4 separate regions of the Homo sapiens genome follow, and all the other regions are linked to region 1. Evidence: fine-mapped expression QTL. A gene starts in region 1. Each other region holds a variant in brackets. All regions are shown on one strand. Distances are between the middles of the regions.

Region 1 (5,153 bases):
CCCTAGTGCCAGGTGGAGTCACTGTGAGCCTGTAAGAGCTCCCCCCTCTCATTTGCACCCTAGTGCCAGGTGGGGTCAGTGTGAGCCTGTAAGAGCTCCCCCCTCTCATCTGCGCCCTAGTGCCAGGTGGAGTCACTGTGAGCCTGTAAGAGCTCCCCCCTCTCATTTGCACCCTAGTGCCAGGTGGGGTCAGTGTGAGCCTGTAAGAGCTCCCCGCTCTCATTTGCGCCCTAGTGCCAGGTGGAGTCAGTGTGAGCCTGTAAGAGCTCCCCGCTCTCATTTGCACCCTAGTGCCAGGTGGGGTCAGTGTGAGCCTGTAAGAGCTCCCCGCTCTCATTTGCGCCCTAGTGCCAGGTGGGGTCACTGTGAGCCTGTAAGAGCTCCCCGCTCTCATTTGCGCCCTAGTGCCAGGTGCAGTCAGTGTGAGTCTGTAAGAGCTCCCCCCTCTCATCTGCACCCCAGGACCACAAGAGCTGTTCTCTCAGGTGGACAATAGAGAGATGGGATCAGAAGTCATTGCTTCCCTCAAGAAACTTAACTATCAGAGGATGAACCAAATGCTCATTAGATGATATTTAATATTAGTGAAGAAAAACTTGATAAAAACATGTCATGGGACTGCTGACTTAATGTTTGGTAAATTGCTGATTTAAAATACATTTCTTTACCTTTCTTTTCTGCAGTGGTTGGAGAAAAGGAAAAGATAGATAATGCTGTAAACGTGCGAACAAGAGACAACAAAATTCATGGAGAGATTTTAGTAACTTCTGCCATTGATAAACTGAAGAATCTCAGGAAGACACGGACACTCAATGCTGAGGAGGCCTTTTGAAGTCCTTCCCTGATATTTGCTTCTGTGTAACTTTGTTTTGACCCTTAAAAATGTATTTTTCTTAACATGTTAGTACTTCTACGACTTTGGAGCCACTGATGGGTCCACTCATGGCCTCAGCTGAGAAAGGAGACGATGAACGTGTAGCTGACATGCACGAAGTTTAATTTACTCATGTCCACGGGGGACGTTTAGAGGGCACGTGGGAAATTTTCCAGCAATCAATGCCTTGAGAAACTTAAATGGGGAAATATTATTCATCGAGAAAGTGAAACAAAACACTAGGAAATGATTATGAAATGTTAGTGATTTTCAAAAGATGGGCTTCAAATAAAAGTCTGCAGAGTTTTTTTTAAATAGGAGGGAAAATCTTATTTTCTAATATGTCTCAGGTATTTTTATGACTTCTACTAAAATTCACACTGAAACTTTATCTTCTAAACTGGAATCATTACTTAATTTTAACTAACCAACAACCACAAAAGCAGCAGCTACTGCTAAATATTGGATTACTGACAAAGGAATTCAGTTTTGTGGAATCTGGTGTTTGCACTATAGGTTAAGAGTTGCCATTTAAATGTTTCTTATTCATAATTAGGTTTTGTTCCGCTTTAGAAAAAAATAAATTCCCAAATGAATTGCATCAGTGTTTCCAGCGTTTCAGCTGTGGGCTTCTACCACCACTAAGCCGCTCACCTAGAGTTGTTACTTTTTTGATGGGATGACATTCCATGGATTTATGTACTGAAATGGATTTCAGATTTTAAAGAGAGGAATGCTCTACGTGCTCAGAACTGAATTAAAATGGCATTATGTCAATAGAGAATTCAGCTACCAAACAAGAAGTATTGTTTATTTTGCGATATGCTGTGAAATTCAAAAGAAATGTAAGAAATAATCTCTTTTCAATATACTGATCATTTAGTTAACTTCCTGAGGGATGTGAACAGTGAAACAGTTGGCAAACAAAACAATATATATCAGGCTTGTGTAGTAGTATAAGGTGCAGATTGTGTGATATGATTTTTATTATTTATTTTTTGAGACGGAGTCTCGCTCTGTCACCCAGGCTGGAGTGCAGTGGCGCGATCTCGGCTCACTACAACCTCCGCTTCCCGGGTTTAGGCGATTCTCCTGCCTCAGCTTCCCCAGTAGCTGGGACCACAGGCGCGTGCCTCCACGCCTGGCTAATTTTTTTGTATTTTTAGTAGAGACAGGGTTTCACCGTGTTGTTAGCCAGGATGGTTTCGATTTCCTAACCTCGTGATCCGCCCGCCTGGGCCTCCCAAAGTGCTGGGATTACAGACGTGATTCACCGCCCCCGGCCGTGATACGATTTTTAAAGCTAACATTCAGGGCTTATGTGCCGGCACTTTTCCATGTATTTTTTAAAAAGTCATTCAGCAAACATGCACGTGAGGGGGTGGTAGTCAGAAGACCGCGGAATGAACGATCCCGAAGCACGTGGGTGGGAGGAGAGCACCTGTCACCAGCGCTTTCTCCCAGGTGTGCTGTGACAGAAACCGGCAAGGGTCTCCGCAAGCTGGGGCCTGAGCGCGGCTCCCCAGACGGCCGCGACCTTCCCCAGGCAGGGCTGGGCTCTGGACCCTCCCCTCACTTCCCAGCGCCTCGGGCCATCCTGCTTCTCCAGGCCTGAGAGGAACTTTCTGGAAGTGCTGCGTATCTTCAAGAGGCCGGCCAGAAGTGAAAGCCGCGGCAGGCCTGAGCGCCGGCCCCAGGGGAGGGGTCCCTCGGGCCCTCGTCGTCCCGGGGCCGCTTCCCCGACTGTAAATAAGTGTCTTTAGGATGAAACGCCACGCGATAGTGTCCTCGGAACCTTCGCACGAGATCCAGCACACAACATCCGACCACACACTGGGGCGGCCAGCCTCCCGCGTTCGCCCGCCTCTGCTCTTGGTTGCTTCGGGCGCGCATTTCGGTCCACGGATGACCTTTAACAGGTCTCCTGCAGTGGAACCAGGGGTGAGGGCCTCGTCCAAGGGCGTGAGGGGCGCGTGGAAATGGAACAACCTCCCAGGCTCGCATCCTCCTCGGGGACCTCCCAGAAGGCTCAACCGGAAGAAAACCCGCGACCCGCGCGAGGACAGCGAAAGCGCAAACGCCGGCCGCCAGGAGTCGCAGCGCGCCTGCGTCCAGTTCACGCTCCGGCTCCCAGGCGCGCCCCGCCCCCCGGCCCGGAAGTGCGCAGGCGCTGGCAAGATGGCGGGAGGGGTGCTCCCGCTGAGGGGCCTCCGCGCCTTGTGTCGCGTGCTGCTCTTCCTCTCGCAGTTCTGCATTCTGTCGGGCGGTGGTGAGTCAAAGGCTGGGTTCAGCGCCGGGTGGGGCTGAGTGGCAGCAGGGCCCCGGGAGCTGCGAGGAGGCCGGGCCCACGGGCGGACGCTGACGCGGGGAGGAGGCCGAGTGCCGGGCTCCGGGCCGCTTGTCGCTGCATCTGGAGTCTGGCGCCCTGGCCGCCCGGCCCGAGGCCGCCCCTCCGCTCCGGCGACACCGAGCCCGCCATCGCGGCTGCGGAGCCCTGGCACGGAGATGGAGCGCTTGGGGGCTGGGCCGGGGAGGCGGAACTGGAGCGCGATGTCATCCTTCGGTCCCTCGTTGCCGGCTGACCTGAACTGATGTCTACTCTGTTGACGTTTCGTCCCTAAGCTTTGTGTTTTCTGGCTGACCAGCCGTGAGGTTTTCATGAGCAGCTTATTGGCCTGGTGTAGACCCGCCGTGTTAACCACACAAAATAAGGTTTTCTTGTCCCGGGATAACGTGTTTCTCTAATTGTACGATCCTTAAATTTAGAGCAATCGCAGGCGCTGGCTCAGTCAATAAAGGATCCGGGCCCAACACGCACATTCACAGTAGTTCCCAGGGCAGCAGGTACTAGACGTTTTCTATTCTAGTAAATACATGTAGTTATCTCTAGTAGTTTCTCTTTGTTTTTATAAAAATTCCCTTTAGTATACGAAGTCACTTTCCATTTTTGAATATTTATTGTATTTTAGATTATGTGAATTAAGGGTAGATACACAGCCATTTTCAGTAGATAGTCTTCGTATTTATACCTTTTGACGTTTCTGCCTCCTCTCTTTTTCCAATCCCACGCTCATTTGTCACCTTATTTCTATTATTTTTCCACTTCATCCATCAAAATAACCTTCAGTCCGTGCTTCTTTCCCTTCAGCAAATTTCCTCTACTGCTAAAACCCTGTTCCTGATGTTGGAATATTAAAGGCTCCCTCAGGACTGTGGAAATGGAAGGATTACAGCGGGACTGATGGAGACTTGAAATCTAGATCTGGTTTTGCTACTGGGATCTTGAACAAATTATTTATCCTCTTTGGACCTTGGTCCTCATCTTTAAAGCGGTGGGGTTGGTCTGACGACCTAAAGTCATTTCTGCTTTGTGATTCTAAGTGTCCACCTTCCAGCCACATAGTCACGGGATCAAAAAGAGTATTTTGTAGAATTGTTCCTTAATACAGTGAGTAAAGTAGGACCAGTTTTAAACAAGCATTAGTGTGTTTTGCTAGGTGGAGGCTCTGACTATAATTTCATCACTTTAAAGTGACATTACTTCAGTGAATTGAAACTGGCAGAGATATTTTACTGATTCTTATTTGGATGTAAAAAACAGCAGTGCACTTGAATTTTAAACTCAGATTACTTTTTAGAGAAAGCACAAGAGTTCTTAACTCTTGCAGGCTTTTGAAAGCCCTTCTTTTCAGGAATACTTGCAATTTTGATCCTTTCAGTTGGTAAAAATACATTGCACACTCATTAGGTTGGTTGGAAATAAGTTGCAGCTTACTGAAGATGTTATTAAAGTAGAGAACTGTTTTGAACTTTGGTAGCGTAAAACTGTAAATATTATATTAGCAAATGTGGCTTATCGAAGTACCAGTGTGAAATAATGACATTTTAAAGTTGATGCCCTGAGGATGTCAGTGGCTTCATTTCTGAATTAGTGAATTCAGATGAAAAGAACACGGGATTGGAAATGGAGAGATTTGGGTTCTAGTTCCAGTTTTGCCACAGACTTCCTCTGTGATTTTGCAAAACCCTACTGTAAGTTTTTTTTCAACTTACAAAATGATAGTCTTTTTTTTAAGCCCTTAATGTATACCCAGAATTTTCTATACATTATTTGTATATGAGCACCTTTAGTTTTCACGGCCACGTGGGAGGCAGGAATGAAGTAATGTTTTACAAGTGTGGTGCTCACCAGGTCCCACAGCTGGCCGTGGGCAGAATTCTGCTTTAATTGCAGGTGTCTCTGACTCCAGTCCCATGCTTCTTCCCTTCCAGTGCAGTG
Region 2 (5,153 bases), 39 kb before region 1:
CTCAAAACTCCCTCATGCTACCCTTTTAAAATCAAATCCTCCCCAGCCCTGACCTCAGGGAACGGCTGATTTTTTCTCTACCCCTAAAATATTGGCATATAAATGGAATCATACTTTTATAAAACCTTTAGAGACTGACCGCTTTCACCCAGCATAACACCCTGGAGATGCATCCGAGTTGAGTGTCCCCAGCGGGCCTCTGCTTTTGTCCCTGGGCAGTATTCCATCATATGAACATACCACTGCTTCAGATCCATCCTGCAGTTGAGGGGCATTTGGGTTGTTTTCAGCTTTTGGCAGTTATGAAAACTGCTATTGTCATTCATGTACAGTTTTTTGTATGAACATAGGTTTTCATTTTACTAGAGTAAATACCTAGGAGTGTGATTTCAGGGTCATATGGTGATATGGTTTGGCTGTGTCCACACCCAAATCTCACCTTGAATTGTAGTAATCCCCAAGGGTCAGGGGTGGGGCCAGGCGGAGATAATTGAATCGTGGGGGTGGTTTCCCCCATACTGTTCTTGTGGTGGTGAATAAGTCTCTTGAGATCTGATGATTTTATAAAAGGGAGTTCCCCCGCACAAAGTCCCTTGCCTGCTGCCATTTAAGATGTGCCTTTGCTTCTCCTTTGCCTTCCACCGTGATTGTGAGGCCCCCCCACCAGCCATGCTGAACTGTGAGTCCATTAAACCTCTTTCCTTCATAAATTACCCAGTCTTGGGTTTGTCTTTATTAGCAGTGTGAGAATAGATATGGTAAATTTAAGTTTATAAGAAAATGCCAAACTATTTTCCAAAATGACTACTGTTTTGCATTCCCACCAGCTGTGCATGAGGGTTGCTTTTGTAAAGCTCATCTCAGTCACACCTTTTGCATTTCCTGGAATCTGCCTGACTTGTTGATGCATGTCTTGAAACCCTGGAGTGGGGAGGGGAGTGGCTTCTCTTGTTGTTATATTAATAACCCACTTGGGGAATTTTTGCTTCCTCTTCACACAACCTTAGATGGAGTGAATTTCTAGACCAAGCTTGTCTTTGTGAACATGGCAGGCCTCAAAACATTCAGCTCTTCTGCAGGGAGAGTCCTGAAAGATGCACTCCAAGGGTTTAACTGAAGAGAGTCTAGTGAAGGAAGTATTTATGGAGATATGGGCCTGGCTAAGGTAACTAACAAGGGATGATAGAGCGCCCAGGGATTACCAATAGCAAGAATCCCTTCCCCTCCATCACTAGGCCTGCAGAAGTGAGGAGATGGAGTAGTAATACTAGAACCCACAGAGAGCTTGGAGCCATGGAGGAGAGAAGTGAGGAGATGGAGTAGTAATACCAGAACCCACAGAGAGCTTGGAGCCATGGAGGAGAGAAGTGAGGAGATGGAGTAGTAATACCAGAACCCACAGAGAGCTTGGAGCCGTGGAGGAGAGAAGTGAGGAGATGGAGTAGTAATACCAGAACCCACAGAGAGCTTGGAGCCGTGGAGGAGAGAAGTGAGGAGATGGAGTAGTAATACCAGAACCCACAGAGAGCTTGGAGCCGTGGAGGAGAGAAGTGAGGAGATGGAGTAGTAATACCAGAACCCACAGAGAGCTTGGAGCCGTGGAGGAGAGAAGTGAGGAGATGGAGTAGTAATACCAGAACCCACAGAGAGCTTGGAGCCGTGGAGGAGAGGCCACACAACAGAAGCTGTAACTGTGGAACACAGCCAGAACCTGAGTAAACCCACAGCAGGGAGAACCAGGGAAAGAAATATCCAGACCTCTCTCTTCCACTACCCTGTGAATCCTTTGGAACTTCCCATTGGTCAGACCCAATCAGAAACCATATGGAAAGTATATTGGCATGTCAGGATTCTCCACAGAAACAGAACCAACAAGATACATAGAAAAGAAGAGATTTATTATGAGGAATTGGCTTGTGTGATTATGGAGGCCAAGAAATCCCATGATCTGAGGGTCCAAGAAAGTTGGAGATGTAATTCTCGCCTGAGTGCAGAGGCCTGAGAACCAGGGGAGCTGATGAATCTAAAAAAAGGAGAGAGCTCAGGTACATACACAGAGAATTAAACAGTGCTTACCATGGTCAGGGGTTGGGGGGAAGAAATGGGGGGATATAGATCAAAGGA[T/C]ACAAAATAGATATCTAGGATCAACAAGGCCAGAGATCTAATACAGAACATGAGGACTAAAGTTAACAAAATTATATTTATCAGGGAGTTTTGTTAAGTAATTAGATTTTAACTGCTCTTGTCACACACACAAAAAAGGTAACTCTTTTACTATTTGTGTCCTATAACATCATGTTGTGAATCTCAAATATGTGAAATAAAATTTATTGAAGAAAATTTAAAAGGCTGGGCATAGTGACTCACTCTTGTAATCCCAGCACTTTGGGAGGCTGAGAGGGGTGGATCGCTTGAAGCCAGGAGTTCGAGACCAGCCTGGCCAACATGGTGAAACCCTGTGTCTACTAAAAATACAAAAATTAGCCAGGCGTAGTGGTGCACATTTGTGATCTCAGCTACTTGGGAGGCTGAGGCAGGAGAATTGCTTGAACCCAGGAGGTAGAGGCTGCAGTGAGCCAAGATTGTGCCACTGCACTCCAGCCTGGGCAAGAGAGCAACACTCTGTTTCAAAAATATATATATATATATATAAATACTGAGGTAATAGTTCTAAGACTGATACCCATTGGCCGGGCGCAGTGGCTCATGCCTGTAATCCCAGCACTTTGGGAGGCTGAGGCGGGTGGATCATGAGGTCAGGAGATCAAGACCATCCTGGCTAATACGGTGAAACCCCATCTCTACTAAAAATGCAAAAAAATTAGCCAGGCGTGGTGGTGGGCGCCTGTAGTCCCAGCTACTCGGGAGGCTGAGGCAGGAGAATGGTGTGAACCCAGGAGACGAAGCTTGCAGTGAGCTGAGATCACGCCACTTCACTCCAGCCTGTGTGACAGAGCGAGACTCCATTTCAAAAAAAAAGATTGATACCCATTAAATAATTTTCATTGCTGAAGGAAATGTGAGGAAACAGTTATCATATACTTAGAGAGAAAGTTTAAATTGCTACTAATCTGGTAACAAATATTAATGTGAAAAAAATGCACACTCCTAGCAATATTCTTAGAAAGGAATCTAAAATATACAATTAAAATCACATAGAAAAAAACTTTACTGCAGAATAGTTTGTAGTATTCAAAAATGAAAAGTCTAATGTTTCTCAATAGTAGAAGGATTAAATACTTTGTGACATGTCCACACAATAAAGCACTATGCAGTTAGTACAAAAATACATCTATGCATACTAACTTGAAGGGGGTTCAGTATACCTCACCATTGAAAACTGGAAGTGACAGAGTAAATGTATAGTGTATCCTTTCTTTTTATAGGTAAAAGCAAAAAACAACAAAATCCTGTATGTGTGTTTTGTGTTTGCACAGTCATGGAGGAGAGGGTTGAAATACAGGAACAGCAGGCCATTAGCATTATCTCAGGGCAGTAAAGGGTGGAATGAGAGAAAATGTTCAGGTTTTCTTTATACACCTTATTTTTTTCCACATGAAACATAATTTAAGCATGTTGTATTATACTATTGTGTTTAAAAGTATATATTTTATAAAATAAAAAAATAATAATCACAGCAAGTAAGCCTTGTGCGGAGCCCACAGAAGTCAGCTTTGGGGAACACAGTGCAGGGCAGAGAAGGAAGGAAAATGGGCCAAGATGAGGCGAGACAGGCAGTGGCAAATGGAAAATAACCAGCCTGGCTCACCCCCTGTGCCTCTCAGCACATTCTTGCCTTTTGCTTGGAGGACACTGAGGACATTGGTTTCCTCCCACAAACTCCGATCAGCCGATGTGTCATCATGTGGTGATGTCATTTCAGTTTCACCTAAATCTGAATCGTGCCATTGGCCACCATGAGTGCCCTTCATGTAAGAATGCAAGGAAAAGTCATAACTAAATGTAACTGTTTCAGCCTCTGTAGATGGACGCTAGGGCCAAGCTGATACATCAGAGCCTTCTTTTCCCATCACTCATTCCACATTCGCCTTATCCTGGTGGCACCCCAGATGGGCATTGTTTTATTTGGTGGGTGCATTAGTTTCCTAGGGTATTATAACAAAATACCATAAACTAGGTGACTTAAAACAACAGAAATTTATTATCTCCCAGTTTTGGAGGCCAGAAGTGTGAAATCAAGGTGTTGACGAGGCTGTGTTCCCTCTAAAACCCATGGGGGAATCCTTCCTTGCCTTCTCCTAGCTACTGTTGGTTGCCAGTCATCTTTAGTGTTCCTTGGCTTGTTGAAGCGTCATTCCCATCCTCTGTCTTCACGTGATGTTCTCCCTGCGTGTCTTCACATTGTCTTCCCCTTGTGTGCATCTGTCTCTGTGTCCAGATTTCTCCTTTTTATAAAGAGACCAGCCATATAGTATTAGGATCTACCCTAATGATCTCATTTTAATTTGATTACCTCTATAAAGACCCTACTTCCAAATAAGGACACATTCTGAAGTACTAGGAGTTAGGACTTCAAAATATCTTATTTGGAGAATACAGTTAAACCAATAATAGTGGATGGCCTCAGTCTGTCCTTAGGATCCAAGGTTTTAGTAATGCTCTTTGTGGGGTTTCAGGGCTCCCACTGATGGTTGTTGCTAGATGTGTTGATATCAAAGGCTCCCCACTGAATTCCAGACACAGTCCTCCTTACTCCATTGTAAGCAATACGACTTCTCCCAGTAATTGCGATCAAGGGTAGTAAGTCTTTCCCCAAGTAATTGGGATCAAGGGTAGTAAGTCCTTTTCTGTCTATCAGTTCTATAGTAAAGGGAGCCCATAATGGGCAATGGACAATCTCAACTCCCAAGCATGTCTCAGTTTTTGGTGAAAACATACTTTGGGCACCAAAACATGTTATCGAAAGATTCCAAAGCTCCAAGGATAAAGAAAATATCCTGAATGTTTCCAGAGAGAAAAAAGCCACAGACATAGGACTGGGTATCTGAATGGCATTGAAATTTTCAGTGGAAACACTGAAAAACAGAAGACAGGAACAATGCCTTAGTAATGCGAAGCCTAGAAATCTATACCCAGTTAAAGTAGCTTGCTTCTGGGTTTCTCCCACTGCCAATTTAGTTTTGGCTTTCCTA
Region 3 (5,153 bases), 140 kb before region 1:
CAACCACATTTTTTATCTTCATCAATTTTTGTGTTCTTTGCCTGAACGTAGAAGTTTACAGGCTGATCTCAACTTTTATGTTCAACTTGAAAAGAATAGTAGCCATAATAATAATTTTTCTTTTTAATTTTTGATTTTTTAACTAAAAATAATTTCCCATTACCAACAAAGAATTCTGAGTAGAATACAAAGACTTTTCACAGTTGGTTGTATGCCCTTTTGCTTGGAGGCAGGTTCAAATGTTAAATTACTATATTGATTATAGAGAAGAATAGATCTTGAAAGGCTGGCTCTCTGGGGCTATCCTATCAGAGCGTAATTAATTTATCCAGTCTGAGTTTGACAGATGCACAATGTCTAAGCAGAGAATTCCTTTAAAATTATGCTGTTTTATTCCTGGCAACTCATTTTGAGTTTCTCTGATGAGTCACTGAAGGAGACTTCCTTCACACATCTGCCTCCAGTGACTAAGTCAGCTGAAAATAAACATATGCAATACAATACCTCAAGCATCTGCATCAACTTCAGGACCCTATGTGGGGTCACAAATTATATTTTTAAATATATAAAATACATCATATTTAAGTTATGCTAAACAAATAACAATAATGTTTCCAGCTAATGAGAGTTAACCATGGTGCCCTAATGTCTGGCTTCAGTTGTCGGCTGCAGAGTGGAGATGGTCCTAGAGAGAAGGAACAAAGAAAATGCACATGTTTTGGGTGGGATGAAAGAAGAGTGGGAATAATTTCAATTATAAATATTCTTTTTTTTTAACTTCAGGTGACTATCCAGCAGGCAGTCAGGTATACATACCTGGGATTCATGGGTATTGTCAGAGCTGGAGATACAGATTTGAGAGTTGTAGGTGAGAGAAAAGATCACCTAATTAAAGTGTGAAGAGAGAGTTTAGATAAGATGAAAATCTGGGAACACTTTGCATTTAAGGGTTAAGCACAGTAGATTTAGAAAGGGAGACAGACAGAGAATGTTGAGTATGACTTGATCTAAGGGGAAAGCATCATTAGAACGAGAGACATTAAAGACTCAGGAGAGACAAATGACTGACAAAGTGCAAGAGGATTTGTGGGGGTGGGAAGGATTAAAAATATAATGGAGGCCAGGCAAGGTGGCTCATGCCTGTAATCCCAGTACTTTGGGAAGCCAAGGTGGGAGGATCACTTGAGGTCAGGAGTTTGAGACCAGCCTGGCCAACATGATGTCTCTACAAAAAAATACAAAAAATAGCTGGGCGTGATGGTGCACACCTGTAATCTCAGTTACCCAGGAAGCTGAAGCAGGAGAGTTGCTTGAAAAGGGAGGCAAAGGTTTCAGTGAGCTATAGATGATAGATAGATAGATAGATAGATAGATAGATAGATAGATAGATAGCATATATATATATATATATATGAGTTTGGAGGAGCTGATGGCTTTCGTGTCCAGTAACCTCACATTCCTGAAAGCATTAGTACAGGCGGCCATCTGTTGAACAAGAAAGGCAGGGGAGGGATGTGCAAAAAGGTAGCATAATGTCTCAGTTTCTGAGTAAAATGAACAGCTGACCAACTGCAAAGAAAACTATTCAGGTTCTCCCCTGGAACATCCAGATGATTTCACTCACCGCTATCATTTTCTCATTGCCAATATCCTGAAAACCCTACATTCTGCTCAGTTAACTTCATAAGCCCATGAATAGTCTTTCTCACTCCACATTATTCTGCTTCCATGGTCACCCCTCCCTATCTGAATCTCCTGGCTCACTCGACTCTTATGATTCCATTGAACTCACCCAGATAAGACAGGTTAATCCCTTCATGTCGAGCTCCTGAATTTAATCACATCTGCGGAGTACATCTGCAATGTAAGGCAACACAGTCACAGGTCTGGGAATGAGGGCTTGGGAGTCATCTCTGGGGAGGGGCATTTCCTACTCACCACAGTGGTTTTTAGTCTTCGAATGTAAACGTGAGGCCTGGGATAATCTGTCATCTTGTGACCAAGAGACAACAAACGGGAGAGAAAAACCGTTCCAAAATGCAAATACTAGCATGTACCTGGCCATGGAGCTATTACTAGTGGATGTATAACTGGGACTTCTTATATGACATAGGTAAACTCTCTATTGGTGAGCCTTCTTAAACTTGGGTTTTCTTTTTCTTGGAGCCATCCACAATAAGAAATGTATTTTATGTTATGACCAAATAGTGAGCCATAATCCTTATTTGAAAAACATTGTCCTAAGAATAAAGATTATTTAAGCTTTTTACTGTTTTTTTTTGTTTTCTGCACATTATACTGCATTTTATTTGAGCTATGTAAACAAGGCAATATTCCCATTTAAATCACTTGTTAAAAAGACTTCTCAGCACTGAACTCCATACAAATCTTAGCACCATCTAAGTCAGCTACTCTTTGCTAAAATCCCCCTACTGTTTGTATTGAAGATTCTGTTTCACTCTGCTTTTTCTACTCTGTAGTCTTTTTTTAATTATTATTTTTGTAGAGATGGGGGTCTGGGTTGCCCAGGCTGGTCTCAAACTCCTGATCTCAGGTGATCCTCCCAACAACACCTCCTAAAGCTCTGGGTTTACAGGCATGAACCACCATGCCTGGCCCACTTTGTATTCTTTCTGATGATTATCCTTCATCCTGCTGTCCTCTAACTGTAGCTCCCTCAAGGTATTTTACTTTTAAAATTTATGACCAGGACCTTTATTGAGAAATGCATTTTACATCACAAGTTACCACACACATAGGGGTAATGTTTGGTTTTCAGCTATATTTTCACAATTCGATTTTTCTCTGAAAAAATAACTGTTATGTGGATAAAACAACTAAATTCCTATCAGATGTCAGCCCCTTTGTGTGCTAGAGCCCACTGCCTTGCATCATCTGAG[A/G]ACTTATTTATTTTGGACAATTATCCAATCTCTTTCCTGCATCGTTAATTTCTTACCTTCTACAGGATTATGCCCTAAATTTCATTCTGTTACACTCATGGAAAGAAGAAGAAACTGGAGATGGAGGAGAGGGAGGAGGGGGAACTATGTCTGCAGCTCTACTCTAGTTCTCTGCTACCCTTAAAAGTAAAACTTCTAGAGAGAGCCATCTATAGTCGCATTCTCTACGTCATCACCTGGATTCTCTCCTAAGACCACCCTAACCGAGCTTCCGTTTTCACTGCCTTTATGAACGTTTGTTAAGCTACGTGCAGTGAAATCCAAAGGTCGCTCTTCTATTCTTGTCCGAAATGTCTTAGAAGTGTTCAGTGAAGTTTATCACTTGCTTCTATGATGAAGGCTTTCTTCTCCTGGTTTCAGAAACCCCATCGTCTCCTTGCATCTCCTTTGTCACTGAAACTCTCTTACTGTCTCCTCGGCTCAATCATGGTATGCCCCTGGGCCCTTTCCTGGTCCTGTACTCCTTTCTATATAGAGGTAAAGCATTTTTTTTTTTTTTTTTTTTTTTTTTGAGACGGAGTCTTGCTCTTTCGCCCAGGCTGGAGTGCAGTGGCGCGATCTCGGCTCACTGCAAGCTCCGCCTCCCGGGTTCACGCCATTCTCCTGCCTCAGCCTCCCAAGTAGCTGGGACTACAGGCGCCCGCCACTACGCCCGGCTAATTTTTTGTATTTTTAGTAGAGACGGGGTTTCACCGTTTTAGCCGGGATGGTCTCGATCTCCTGACCTCGTGATCCGCCCGCCTCGGCCTCCCAAAGTGCTGGGATTACAGGCGTGAGCCACCGCGCCCGGCCGGTAAAGCATTTTAAACCCATCTAATCCCTGGGCTTTAACCAGTATCTGTATAAATAGGACTTTCAATTCTATATGTCTCATTCTGAACTCTTTTGGACTATGATTTGTGTAATCACATACGGACTTGATATCTCCACATAATACAGAATATTGGAGGTACATATTGCCTAATGATGATCTTCTTTGTCCACTTCATTTCCTGAAACTGAAATGTAGAGAGGTTGAATAACTTAACCGGTTTCCTATTGCTAGTCAGAGGCACAGTAGATATGCCTTCAAAACAGCGCTATCAGCTACTCCTTAGTAGGACCAAAAAATTAAAAAGCACATAATGCATGTATTAAATACTAACAAGCAAGAGTGTAAGATTTCTTTCTGTTTGTTAGGAAGCTTCAGTGTCGGATAAAGCTGTGCTGGACAGACTCCTGTAAATTCAAGCCCTGTGGTGGGGCTCTTTATGTCCCATGCTGAGTATGGCAGCCGAGGCATAACTGCATTTCTTTTAAGCTTTCCCCCAAAATTCAATCTGATTTTTACATTTTTATCTTTTCTCTCCCTGCTGGTAGGTTTCACTGGACTGATATAGATTTACATATTCCCCAATCTGATTATATTCCAGTTTATTGATTAAAAATTCCCACTGTGATATTGTTATTACAAAGTGAGGCATAAGTTTTTAGTGAATTATCACTTTTGCAGATAGTGATCACTTGATGGGAGGCTCTCTTTCAATTACCCCATCAAATAGTTATTGTTTATTTAGAGCTTGCTGAGAGTCAGATCATTTACGTAAATTTCTAAATCCCCAAGACTCAAAGCTGATTTCCAAAAATATTTGACTTTAACAGTATAGTTTCTTCAACTGAACTGTCTTTATTTACAAGCCTTTTAAGGATCAAGAGGAATTGCAGGTTTTGACACTCAGCATGTGAAGGCTTATATTAACTATTAAAGAATGAATTTCCTACAGAATATTTTTTCTCAACTGGGTCTTCATGCAATAATGTTAATTATCAAGATAAACGATCCAAAATGAGATGAAAGCTAAACATCAAAATACTGAACAATTTCTCCATGATCATGGGGATGACTCCATTAAAGCAAATTGCAGCTAAATGCAGGGCAGCAAGAAGGGAAACAGGGCAACAAGGAGATACATTATCTGTATCAACAACAAAGCTCTAAAGCCAAAATATTTAAGAGAAGTACGAATGGTCCGGCTTTGGGAAATAAACCAAATGTCAACAGTTTGCTATCACAATGATCATGAATGCCAGGTACTTTGAATACTTAGCATTTTGCATGCCAGATAGTTTACTGGGCAACACCGGTTACAGCAGTGTAGGCTGTACAGTGAATGGCTGCTGGTTTTCTTTTCCCCTGTAACAACATACCGCTAC
Region 4 (5,153 bases), 32 kb before region 1:
AAAGAGGACCAGAGAGCTCTCTGCGAATCCTTTTATAAGGACACTAATCTCATTCATGAGGGCTCTACCCTTATGACCTAATCACTTGTCAGAGGCCCTACTTCCTAATACCATCACCTTGGGGTTAAGGTATCAATATCACAATTTTGGGGGAGACACATTCAGTCCATTGCAGGGATAGTTTAAAATCATTTCTAAACATCTCAAGAAGACATACATTCCTAACATGGTTGCATTCAGAGTGAATTAAAAATGCATTGAGCAGTATCTCCTGAGCTAGACTTTAAAAGTAGTTTTTAGTAAAAGCGAACACGCACACCCTGCCACACACACACCCACACACTCACCCTTAATTTCTGGGACCTTGTTTAATCTGAATATATGGAACCATCTGAAATAGCCAATAATCACTGCCATTCTTAATGACATCATTTTGTTAAACATTTTCTTTCTTTTTTTGAGATGGAGTCTAGCTTTGTTGCCCAGGCTGGAGTGCAATGGCGTGACCTTGGCTCACTGCAACCTCTGCCTCCTGGGTTCAAGCGATTCTCCTGCTTCAGCCTCCTGAGTAGCTGGGATTACAGGTGTGTGCCACCACGCCTGGCTAATTTTTGTATTTTTAGTGGAGATGGGGTTTCATCATGTTAGCCAGGCTGGTCTCAAACTCCTGACCTCAGGTGATGCACTTACCTTGGCCTCCCAAAGTGCTGGGATTACAGGCGTGAGCCACCACACCCTACCTGTTAAGGTTTTCTAATTTAGTAAAAACAAAGGATAGGTAAAGCAGCTCACTGAATGGCCGAGACCTAAGCTGTCTACCGTGGACTGCCAGGATGCCCTGCTGAAGAATAACAGACAACATTCCTTTCAGTTGTATAAAACCATTGTTAGTAATCTTAAAATGTTATGTTTTATGTTTTTTTAGCTGTGAAAACAGTTTTTCAAATGTGCTCAAAGTATACATGGCATTCTAGATTTGGGCCAGATGTCCATTAAGTGGTTTACAAATGTTGAGAATCTAAGGATTCTCAGAATTCTTACTTATTCAGCTTTTTGTGTTCATCCAAATTAAAACTGTCATGCAAAGGGTCCCTATCAAATTACTGTCAAAACAATTTGACCTAATTGACATTTGTAAAACAACAGCAGAATATGCATTTTTGGAAAGTGCACATAAAATATTTACCCAACAAAGATCACCTAATTGTTTTGTTTTTAAAGAAAGTTTAAATAAAGTTAAAACTTTGCTTGGAAAAAAACTCTCTTCTCCTGTCTCCAGTAATTCAATTAGGGAAGCTGTTAATAGGTAGGGAGGGAGAGAGGCCAGCTCATGACTTAATAATTTCAACTACTTAAATCGTTATACACTAAAATTCTTATTTCTGTTTAAAACTAAATAAATCAAAATTATAACATGCAACATGGCATTCAGGCTTATTAAATTATAAATTTTTTCTGCCTCTTAATAGGAAAAAACCTGTTTAGAAGGACTTTGGAGTAGTTACAGTGAGTTTCTATATATATTGTATTTCAATTACTACTTTTCAAAGAACTAAAACATTATATACTATATACTGTTATATGCTATAAAATAAATATACTCAATAGAAATTATACTAAGCATATGTAAATCTTTCTTCCAAGATCCAGAAACCACCACACCTAAAACTGAGGGTACATTAATCATGAATTAATATAGGACATGAGCCCAATTTGAAAATATTTGCTCATAGTGTTACTTTGCATGGAATTGTGATCTGCCCTAGCAGATTTTAATGTTGAATGCATGTATCTTGAAGGAGGAATATCACAAACGGGACTTCACGGAGGTGCTCTCTCCCAATATGTACAACAGTAAACTCTGGGAAGCCTCAGGCCACTGGCAGCATTACAGCGAGAACATGTTTACCTTTGAGATTGAAAAGGACACTTTTGCCCTCAAACCCATGAATTGTCCAGGGCACTGGTGAGTATTAAAAGCGAAGCAGACCTTTTCATGAGAGCACATAGCACGCTTCGTCACAATTATCTTTTAATGCTTTGTGGAATGAAAGAGTCCCTTTAATCTGAAGAGTGGTGATTACTAATTTTTACTAAGTTGTTTCATTCCGGAGAATGGATTTACTTTTGAAAATATATTTGATCTTTGGCAGGTATGGGATGTTAGCTGGTAACCATTGCATTTTTTTGTGCTGATTAAAGGATAATGTTATGTGTCAATTTTATAAGTTTTATAATATTTGTCTTTCTTATAGTAATGCACTTCACATGTTCATATTTGCAGAATATTTAGTTCTTTCATACTGTTTGGGTGGATTATAACAAGATCAATGAGGTCATAATCAATGGGTTTCTGGATTTCACTGATTCCAAGATACCATTTTTCTTCCACATTTCAACATTTCTGAAGTTGAAATGCATCTTATAGTTGGTGGCATCTTAGCATTATATCATAATTTAATTAATAGGTTATTTTCTTTCTTTGTAGCACATAAAATGAAGATACATTTTACAATCAATGCTGTCTTTGATTCTATGAAAGACTAATTATCATAAAGTTGGTATGCAAATTCAACCTTGTAAGACAAACATATTGTACAACTGAAACTGAATAGGCATAATTGTCCACAAAAAACAATCCCAACAAT[T/C]GTAGTTTTTGTATTATCAACATACATAGTTTCAAGTAAATTTACCTAGAAGATAATTATTAAAACCGGTAACTGAACACTGAAGAAAGCTCTTTGCCCTTTTAAGTGAAGATGAGAAGAAATTTAACTTTATGATGATGTCATGTAAAAAATATATATAACTTTAATTTTAGGAACACCGGTATGTAAACATTCTGTATCCTCTCTTTCTAAACAGAAGGTAGAAGCTATGCTAGTGTTTTGCATTGTAAAACACTTGTGTTAACAATTTCTTAACTCATCTTCTCAAAGGCATCCTTTAAAATTATAGCCTCGTACTTTATAATGAAAGTAGAGAATTTAAGTTTGTCTTTTTACACCTCAGAATAAGAAAGCAAGACCACGGTGGCTTAGAGGCAATGGGATATGGAAGCTAGGAGTGCTTTCTGCAGGAGAGAAGTCTTTCATTCAACAGAGAACATAGTTGAGTGCTTTTTGTGCTTGGAGCTAGAAGTGCAGAGGTGATTAAGACACAAACCATTCCCTCATGGAACTCATGAGCAGAGTGGGCAGGGCCATGCATGTAGACAATCTGTTATAAAAAGACCAGTGCCATAATGATGGCATGTTTGAGGTGTTCCAGGAACGTGAGGAGAAACTGCCTAGCCCTGTCTGGGAAATGTCTAGGAGGGCTTCATTTAAGAAGTAGCCTTTGAAATGAATCATAAACAGTAAATGGTGATTCACTGTGTGGATAAGGGGAGGGAACAGCATTTCTGGGAAGAGATAATAGACAAGCATCTTTCTCAGAGTGCTGCAGTGATGTAAATGCAAGGTTCACTAATTTGTGGAAGAATTTTTTTTTTAACCTGGTGATCTAAGAACTAGAATAAGGAGTTTATGAATCTTGAGGCTTAATTGTAATTTCTTTATATTTAGATAATTATTTAATATTTCTGTGCTGTGTAAAAGCTGTGTGTTACCACATCTTTTCTAGTCTAATGTTTGCCCATCGTCCACGATCTTGGAGGGAAATGCCTATTAGATTTGCTGATTTTGGAGTTCTGCATAGAAATGAACTGTCGGGGACTCTCAGCGGCTTGACCAGAGTGAGGCGCTTCCAGCAGGACGATGCTCACATTTTTTGCACAGTGGAGCAGGTAAACAATAACACAGAGTGAAGCAGTGTGGTCACAAATTGAGTGTGATGCCCCGCACACATCTTGTATTCTTTCAGAGTTACTGAAACATAGACGTTTGGTCTAGTCTCTGAGATTCATTCAGCTCTAACCTGCTGTGATTCTCTAAATTAGGTCAATAGATTAATCATCTCTTGACATGAAATATATTCCTTCAGTGATTTTATTAACCTAAATTCCATTAAGTGGAGTATTTTAAGGGATTTGGTGGAATTCTGGATGTTTTGTTTTTCAGTATCGCCTAGAACTTAAAATTTACTTTTTCAAGTTTTTGTGTTAATTCAAGTTAAAATTGCCATGCAAAGTTTCACTGTCAAACAATTTGACCTAATTGATGTTTATATAACAACAGCAGAATATACATTCTTTGGTTTCATGTTGGATGGGTAATGTGCCAGTGTTGTATCCAATGTGCTTCATGTGGGGTGGGTAATATGCCAATGTTGTACCGAGGTGTGAGGGAGGTACATCTTACACATGTGTGTACACCCAGTCATCACGCTTATGAACTACAAAAAGCTCAGAGTATTTGTTCTTTGAAATTGCACGTAGAATATTTACTAAAATAGACCATATTCTGGACCATAAAACAAGTCTCAGTGAGTTGAAAGGGATGCAATTAAAATAAAATGTTTAATTAACCCTAATGTTTAACCCTAATCCTAACTGACCACAATAGAATTAAAAATAGATAACACAAAATCCAAAGGAAAATTAGACAATTTTATATAACAAATGAAATAAAAACACATCAAAATTTGTAGGATGCGATTTAAGTGGTAGAGGGATGTTTATAGCACTGAATACCTGCATTAGAAAAGAAAAATCAATGACTTAGCTTTTACTTAAGATAGAAAAAGAAGAACAAATTACACCCAATGTAATGGAAGCAAAAGAAAGAAAATAAGAAAGAGCAGAGCAGAAATCACTGAAATAGAAAATAAAGAGTAAAAATAAAACAAAAGCTGGTTCTCTGAGAAGATCAATAAAATTGATAAACCTTTAGTCAGACTGATGAGGGAAAAAAGACAAATAAAAATGTCAGGAATGAGACAGATGTCATCACTACAGATTCTGTAGCTGTTAAAAAGATAAGGCAGTTTTATGAATAACTTTATGCTCATACATTTGACAGCTTAGATGAAATGGATAAATCTTTGAAAGACAAAACTATTAAACTTTACTCAAGAAGAAGTAGATCATCTGAATAGCCCTGTGTCTACTACAGAAATTGAATTGATAGTTAAAAACCTTCCTACACAGAAAACTCCAGGCCAAGATGGTTTTACTGGTGAATTCTACCAAACATTAAAGAAGGAATAATACC

Direction of the effects. Alleles are on the strand shown, and positions count from the first base shown. SD is a standard deviation of normalised expression in the study named. Not every link is listed here.
In carriers of allele C in region 2, the expression in cerebellum of the gene that starts at base 3,033 in region 1 tends to be lower than with T alone (moderate effect, 0.69 SD a copy in GTEx).

The links. PIP is the estimated chance that this variant, and not a neighbour inherited with it, causes the effect.
Region 2: its variant is fine-mapped to the expression of TM2D3 in cerebellum (GTEx, PIP above 0.99). The same link has a PIP of 0.9 or more in pancreas and prefrontal cortex.
Region 3: its variant is fine-mapped to the expression of TM2D3 in whole blood (INTERVAL, PIP 0.94).
Region 4: its variant is fine-mapped to the expression of TM2D3 in unexposed skin (GTEx, PIP 0.96).

The regions. Positions count from the first base shown.
Region 1 is chr15:101,650,261-101,655,413 of GRCh38, reverse strand. It overlaps TM2D3 (TM2 domain containing 3), which reads left to right and starts at 3,033. Exons shown (of 6, transcript NM_078474.3): 1 at 3,033-3,143; 2 at 3,641-3,718. The coding sequence starts at 3,053. TARS3 (threonyl-tRNA synthetase 3) reads left to right here. Exons shown (of 19, transcript NM_152334.3): 19 at 684-1,818. The coding sequence ends at 832. RefSeq lists enhancers at 1,739-2,629, 2,736-2,795 and silencers at 2,456-2,645, 2,886-3,445.
Region 2 is chr15:101,688,774-101,693,926 of GRCh38, reverse strand. The region is part of intron 10 of TARS3 (threonyl-tRNA synthetase 3); the gene reads left to right. Among named protein-coding and RNA genes, the nearest start is that of TARS3, 33 kb to the left of the region's middle. The variant T/C (reference allele first, on the strand shown) is at 2,125.
Region 3 is chr15:101,790,939-101,796,091 of GRCh38, reverse strand. No RefSeq gene overlaps it. Among named protein-coding and RNA genes, the nearest start is that of OR4F6, 10 kb to the left of the region's middle. The variant A/G (reference allele first, on the strand shown) is at 2,901.
Region 4 is chr15:101,682,709-101,687,861 of GRCh38, reverse strand. It overlaps TARS3 (threonyl-tRNA synthetase 3), which reads left to right. Exons shown (of 19, transcript NM_152334.3): 11 at 1,800-1,966; 12 at 3,625-3,787. It overlaps LOC124903609 (small nucleolar RNA U13), which reads right to left and starts at 4,347; the gene lies at 4,246-4,347. The variant T/C (reference allele first, on the strand shown) is at 2,649.